2 linked regions of the Homo sapiens genome follow. The protein of the gene in region 2 purifies or fractionates together with the protein of the main gene of each other region. This does not show direct contact. Each region holds a gene or a part of one and is shown on either strand. Other genes may lie near its edges.

Region 1 (4,260 bases), on a different chromosome or scaffold from region 2:
TTTCAAGCAATTCTCCTGCCTCAGCGTCTCAGGTAGCTGGGATTACAGGCGCCCACCACCACGCTTGGCTAATTTTTGTATTTTTAGTAGGGACAGGTTTTCACCATGTTGGCCAGGCTGGTCTTGAACTCCTGACCTCGTGATCTGCCCGCCACAGCCTCCCAAAGTGCTGAGATTACAGATGTGAGCCACCGCGCCCGGCTGTGTTTTTAAATTCCTTTCTACCTGTTAAACATGGAGGTATCAAAATACATACCCACACAGAACGTGAAGGAGAACCTCAGCCCAGAGGCATTCTTGCCAAGTGAAACTCTTTATCTCTTTATTGAAATAATATTTCCAACTATGCTTTACCAGAAAGACATTTTTAAACATGACTTTATATACTGTACCACTAAGATACTCATCTGGCGGCCGGGTGCGGTGGCTCATGCCTGTAATCCCAGCACTTTGGGAGGCCAAGGCGGGTGGATTGCCTGAGGTCAGGAGTTGGAAACCAGCCTGGCCAACATAGTGAAACCCTGTCTCTACTGAAAATACAAAAAATTAGCTGGGCGTGGTGGCGGGCACTTATAATTCCAGCTACTCGGAGGCTGAGGCAGGAGAATCACTTGACCTGGGAGGCAGAGGTTGCAGTGAGCCAAGATCATGCCATTGCACTCCAGCCTGGGTAACGAGCGAAACTCTATCTCAAAAAAAAAAAAAAAAAGATATTCAGCTGGGGAAAGTATAAATATACAAACATACATAAACACACACATATAGGAGATACATCAGTTACATATTCCAGTGTTCAAAGGCGTACAGCATTTCAAACTAAATACATGTTTGCATCTTATTTTGACCTTTTTTGAATGTACCATGAGGGGAGAGAGAAGTGTGCAATTGTTTTTATTTCTAAAAAAAAGTCTTGAAGTCTAGTGAACTTACATATAACGATTGCTTTGTGTAAGTGAACAGTAACATTAAACACTTATGTACGTATGTGTGGATATATAAAGATATATATATAGAGAGAGATATATATATTTTTTTAATTTTTGAGACAGGGTCTTGCTCTGTCACCCAGGCTGGAGTGCAGTAGCACTATCTTGGCTCACTCCAGCCTCAGCCTCCCGGGTTCAAGCAATTCTCGTGCCTCAGCCTCCTGAGTAGCTGGGACTACAGGCATGTGCCACCATGCCTGGCTAAGTTTTGTATTTTTAGTAGAGACGGTTTCACCGTGTTGCCTAGGCTGGTTGTGAACTCCTGACCTCAAGTGATAAGTGATCCACCTGCCTCAGCCTCCCAAAGTTCTGGGATCACAGGCCTGAGCCACCACATCTGGCTGGATATAAATTCTTGAGTCAGGAATCTGAAGTCTTGTTTTTTTTTTTTTTTAAGAAACAGGTTGAATTTATATAACATTCAACCAAAGTACCTAGAGCCGAAAATACTGGTGTTACTCATCTTCGTGGAACACTTTTTTTTTTTTTACCCAGCATGACTGAGGTATGATGACCAAAACAATTGAATATATTTAAGATATACAACATGGAGATTTAATAGAGGTACAATGTGAAATGATTACCACAATCCAAGTAATTAACCATCCATCATTTCACATAGCTGCCCTCACTGTGGTGAGAATCCTTAAGATCTACTTTCCTAGCAAATTTCAAGTATACAATACGTTATTATTCACTGTAGTTACCATGTTCTACATTAGGTCTTCAGAACTTACCATCTTATAACTGAAAGTTTGTATCCTTGGCCAACATCTCCCATTTCCACTCCTCCCCTGATAACCACCATTCTATTCTCTGTTTCATGGAACACTTTAAGTTAATAAGTAAAATTCAACTGAGCACGTTGGCTGAAGCCTGTAATCCTAGCATGTTGGGAAGCTAAGGCTGGAGGATTGCATGAGGCCAGGAGTTTGAGACCAGCCTGGGCAACATAGCGAGATCCCATGTCTACAAAAAAGAAAGTAGCCAGGTGTGGTGGTGCACACCTGTAGTCTCAGCTGCTAGGGAGATGGGCGGGAGGATCATTTGAACCCAGGAGTTCAAGGTTACAGTGAGCTATGATTGCACCCATAGCACTCTAGCCTGGGTGATGGAGTGAGAGCCTGTCTCCAAAAAAGTAGATTAAGATAAGACTTCAGTAAAATTGGTTTTCAGATTTTTTTTATTTTGAGACAGTCTCGCTGTGTCGCCCAGGCTGGAGTGCAATGGCGCGATCTCGGCTCACTGCAAGCTCCGCCTCCCACGTTCACACCATTCTCCAGCCTCAGCCTCCCGAGTAGCTGGGACTACAGGCACCTGCCACCATGCCTGGCTAATTTTTTGTATTTTTAGTAGAGACGGGGTTTCACCGTGTTAGCCAGGATGGTCTCGATCTCCAGACTTCGTGATCCGCCCACCTTGGCCTCCCAAAGTGCTGGGATTACAGGCATGTGCCACCGCGCCCGGCCTGGTTTTCAGATTTTAATCGATGTGTCCAGTTAGCAGAACTCTCTGCCTTGATGTTCCTTTAAGCGAAGCCATTTGTTGTAGAATCTCTTACGTAGTCCTTTGGTTCTGCCTGGGCTCTTCTCTGAAGTAGGCAAATACATCACTTGATTTTGCTTCACTTGGTCTCAGACCACAAGAATTTTGCTGATTTTAAGAGTGAAGTATTGGAGCTGAGTCTTCAGTTACTGATTCTTTATTATCTGGTGCTTTTTTGATTAGTTGGAACAAATGTGTAAGTTCTAGGGTATCACCATACATTTATTCTTTGACCCCAATAGATTGAGATACTGGACATGAGGCTGAAGAGTTTATTAAAATTGGATTTAATGATTAGATTGCCAGAAGGTCTGTGGAAATTATTTCCTTCAAATTTTTCATGCTGATTTCCTTCCTGGGAAATTGTAGTCATCAGAGGATAGGTTTATTCTTTGTATTTTTGAGACAGGGTCTCGCTCTGTCGTGTAGGCTGGAGTGCAGTGACATGATCATGGTTCACTGCAGCCTTGAACTCCTGGGCTCAAGCGATCCTGCCACTTCAGCCTCCCAAACAGCTGGGATTATAAGCACACACCACCACTGTACCCAGTGAATTTTTATGTTTTATTTACTTTTATTTTTATTGTTGAGACAGTCTCACTGCTGCCCAGGCTGGAGTGCAGTGGTGTGATCTTAAATGTCTGCAACCTCTACCTCCCAGGCTCAGGTGATCCTCCTGCCTCAGCCTCCCAAAGTGTTGGGATTACAGGCGTGAGCCATTGTGCTGGGCCAAATTTCGATAATTGTATTTTCTACTTAGAAAAAACTAGGTTGATGGACTTAGGGCGAGGGAACCTTTGCAGCACAGTGCCTTAGGCAATTTGCTTTTTCTTTACCATATAGAGTTGGAATGGAAACTGTCTGAATCTGGAGCAATTATGACAGACCTGGAGGAAAACCCTAAGAAGCCGATTGAAGACGTGTTGCTGTCCTCAGTGCGGCGCTCTGTCCTCATGAAGAGGGACAGCGATTCCGAGGGTGACTGAGGCTACAGCTTCTATCACATGCCGAACTTTCTTGTGACAAATTGTCTGGATTTTTTAAAAAAGGAAAAAGCAAGAATGAATCCTTGTGGTTTTTAGTTTTGTATAAATTATGTTTCAAATCTTTACATTTTGGAAATAATCATTGCTGGAGATTCTGTTAAATATTTTGGAACTCTTTTTTTTTTTAAATTATAGTATTTCCTCTAAAAAAAATTAAAACCAGCCATTTGTATGGCAAATGTCTGTTTTCCTCATTTATATTTTAAGTAAGCCATAAAACCTAGTCACTATTTTTTGACATATAACTATAAAAAGAAATACAGTTTTAAATGTGAATAAATTATACAGTGGAAAATTGCAGACTAAGCCTTATAGATACATTGTTTATTTTTATTTTATAAAGAGAGCAGTGAGATTATTAAACTACAGGAATGGTCTCTAGGACAAAAGAATGTTAGTATTGAAGAAACAGACAATTTTTGTGAAACATTCCCTTATTGAAGCAATAACTGAAAGTTTCCAGTTTACTGCCATATTTGGTTAAATGTGTTTTCTTGTTAAAATAGTTTATCTCAGACTGTTAACTAATTTTTTTTTTTTTTTGAGATGGAGCTTTTCTGTGTTGCTGAGGCTGGAGTGCAGTGGCACAATCTCAGCTCACTGCAACCTCCACCTCCCGGGTTCAAGCAATTCTCCTGCCTCAGCCTCCTGAGGAGCTGGGATTACAGACGTGCACCATCACG
Region 2 (3,378 bases):
GCACTGACTTGCCATAGAGCAAATGGCCCAAGGCCATATGAAGAGGCCACACTGGCTCCTAACTCCAGGCAAGTCTCCTAAGTGGCTCCTCCTTCAGAAGCCAAAAGGTAAATGTAGTGAAAAGAGCAACAGCTGGCAGTCAGGGAGGCCCAAGTTTGAACTCTGCTCCACAACGTACTTGCTGTATGACTTCACAGCAAGTGACTTTATCTTCCCTCACTTTCATGTCCTCTTCTTATTCCTTTGAGAGTTGCTGTGAGAACTACATGAGATAATGAATGTAAATGTGACTGACAGAATTAATCGCATGTAGTGGATGCTCAATTAATGTTAGTTCCTTTCCTTTCCCCCTTCTCCTCAAAGGCCCCAGAAACTCAGTCTGCTTTCCTTTGCTTTTCAGAGCATCTACCCATCTGTCTTTCTTAGAATTCAAATCCCTTCCAGAGTGGGTTCAGTGGGACAATCTCCCCAGCTCCCCACTTCCCCAAATAAGTACACGGGTCCTTTTCATTGAAGGGTTTTACTGCTAATCACTCTGGGGAAAACAGAGGCAGGTTGGGGGAGGGATAACAAGTAACAAACATGGGGGAGTGTGAAGGTCCCTGGGTCATGGCTCCCTGAGGGTTTCCCTTTCATTTCTAAGGTGGGACCTCAGATCTCTTCTCCAGACCAAGGAGGCCCCTTCCATTGAGAAGGTCACTCCTCCCACCCCAGAGATCTAGAAGCAAAGTTGGGGCACAACAGGTGGGAACTAGCAGGAAACTGCAGTGCACTCCTACCTAAGCAGTTCACAGACAATTTGGAGAACCTTCAGACAGTGACACCCATCTCATAAGTACTTCCTCAAAGGCCAGGGGGACTGCTGCCTTAATAACATGAGCATGTTCTGAGCCTACCCTATTTCTCTTTCACCCCAAGAAAGTAAAGCCAAGACTGGGTCTTCTGACTTTCCAACACGAGAAATTGGCCTGGAAAGAGGCAAGGGTTTTTATTCCAGAGTCCCTCCTCAGGACTTCCTGAGATCCTGACTTCAGAGGCTATACAAAACCATTCTCCAAAGTGGGATGAAGGGCTTGAGGTCAAGGTAGCAGCAAAAGATGCTGAAGATCTTCCTCCAATAGGTTAGGGTCTCTCACTCTCTCTCCCTCACTCTAAATGGGGCTCTCCTTCAGCTGGAATCTTTCCCAGCCTGTTCGCCCAAGTGAGTTTTCTGGTGGCGGATGAGATTCGAGCTCCGGGAGAAGTGTTTCCCACACACAGTGCACCGGTAGGGCTTCTCCCCTCTGTGGGTCCGCTGGTGTGCTCCAAAGTTGGAGATATCGCTGAAGGTCCGCCCACACTCAGTGCACTCATAAGGTCTCTCACCTGTGTGGGTGCGGTGATGCACGCCAAAGCTGGAGCTGTTGCTGAAGCTCTTCCCACACTCACAGCAGATGTAGGGTGCTGGCTCCAGGTGGGTCCGGTGATGCACAGCTAGCGTGGCACTCTGGCTGAAGCTCTTGCCACAGATGTCACAGCGGTATGGCCGCTTGCCTAGGTGATCTTGCTGGTGCGTGGTGAGGTCTGAGCGCCGCCGAAAGCTCTCCTGGCACTTGGGGCATTTGTAGTGTTTCTCTTCCAGGTGGATCCGCTCGTGCCGGATGCGGTTGGAGCTTCTCGAGAAGCTCTTGCCACATTCAGAACACTTGTAAGGCTTCTCACCAGTGTGGATCCGCTGGTGTGTTCTCAGGTTGGAGGTATTATTGAAGGTTTTGCCACACTGGGCACATATAAAGGGCTTCTCATCTGCCTCATGCCTTGGATGAGCAATGGGGTCCCCTAGCTCTCGAGCCCGGACAGTGACTTTCTGCCATGGCTTTTTTGGATGAGTTTCTTGCAGTTCATCCGACAGGCTCTCTTGCCCATGCTCCTTCTCCCCAGGTGGGATCCAAGAACCCTCTGAGTCATCCACTCTCCAAGGCTTACCCCCTTCCCCTTCCTCAGGCAGGTGTGGTTCTGGACTCTGCTCCTTCTCACTGCCCATCTCTGAACCCTGAGAATGAACACAAATGGCCAACACCTTTATTCTTTGGGTTGGGCCAGATCACAGGGAATCTTTTGTTCAGTTTGAAGGGTATACACCTTCCCCATGGGACCATCCATTAGAAATAACCTCAATCAACTGGAATACTTGGATAGAATACCTTTACTTGCTACCTTTTAAGTGACAAACTTTCAGAGATATTTAAAGCTACCCACCAGAGCAAAAAGAAGGCACCGGCTTTGTCCACCACCACCAGATGATATTTGTGCCATTTGAATAATGTCACTCTTCTTGAAACCACTAAGCAATGACAATCCAGACTATAATTCATGGGCAAGTAAAAGAGCTTTCATTTTGGGATAAGTTCAATTTTTCTGCCTAACTGTAAGTTAACTGTAACTCTTTTTATGTTTAATCCTTTTTGAAAAACCTTCCTTACAAGTATCTACCTATATGCCTGCTTTCAAAATGAACAAAACAAAACCTCTAAATCTTGAGGCTTTCCTAGGTGACAAGGCCCAGCTTTGGCTTTTCTTGAGATTTCTGCCACTCTACCCCTCTCCAGCCCACACCAGAATCTAGCAAGTAAACATCTGGGTTAATACCTGGGACCTCCAGGACCTACTGTGGGGCCTGGGCTGTGTTTCTTCTGATCAGTCAGTGCCCTCCACTACATTCTCAAACACCATACAAAGCCCCACCCACACCCCCCGCCCACACACGCATGCATGCACACAAGCAAGCAGAATCACACAGACACAGTCACACCATACACAAAGCCATATTCTCACGTAACACGGTCATACTCACATACCTGACATACTCGGTCACATTCTCATACCACACACAACAGCTATACACCTACACACCACACACAGCCATACATTATCACACCACACACATACATACTACATACACACTCATACCACATATAGCCACATACCACAGCCACACACATATATAGCTACATACATGTCTATACACATATACCCATACACCACACACAGACACACACTCACATACCAAGTACACACAAAGATAAACACAGACACAGACACACAAACCACACTCCCCACACCCCACCCCAAAACTAAACACATAAGAGTGCCCAGTACAGGTCCTGATTTGTGCAAACATCACTAATGTGTGCTAAGCTGCACAGACTCCTTTGGGTTCCTACAGCCAAGGACAGGGAAAGAGTTGGGGGGAAAAGTACCTCTGATGAGAGTGGTAGCATTTCCTCCGGGCCTTGAAGAAATAACGACATTTCAGCAGAGTGGGTTGGTGAACAGAGTGACATGAACAAAGGGATGAGGGAGGGAAGCACAAACTATCATAGGACACTGATGATAGAA

What was found.
Region 1: the proteins of ZNF691 (region 2) and PDCL3 purify together in Homo sapiens (affinity purification with mass spectrometry; one large-scale study listed by BioGRID and IntAct). This does not show direct contact.

What each region holds. Positions count from the first base shown.
Region 1 is NC_000002.12:100,572,980-100,577,239, forward strand, and holds the end of PDCL3 (phosducin-like protein 3), read left to right. Parts: intron 1-3,374; coding exon 3,375-3,517; 3' UTR 3,518-3,760; downstream 3,761-4,260. UniProt on the Homo sapiens protein: Acts as a chaperone for the angiogenic VEGF receptor KDR/VEGFR2, increasing its abundance by inhibiting its ubiquitination and degradation.
Region 2 is NC_000001.11:42,849,604-42,852,981, reverse strand, and holds the end of ZNF691 (zinc finger protein 691), read right to left. Parts: 5' UTR 3,324-3,378; coding exon 3,240-3,323; exon of another isoform or gene 2,296-3,239; coding exon of another isoform or gene 2,239-2,295; intron 2,033-2,238; coding exon 1,169-2,032; 3' UTR 505-1,168; downstream 1-504. UniProt on the Homo sapiens protein: May be involved in transcriptional regulation.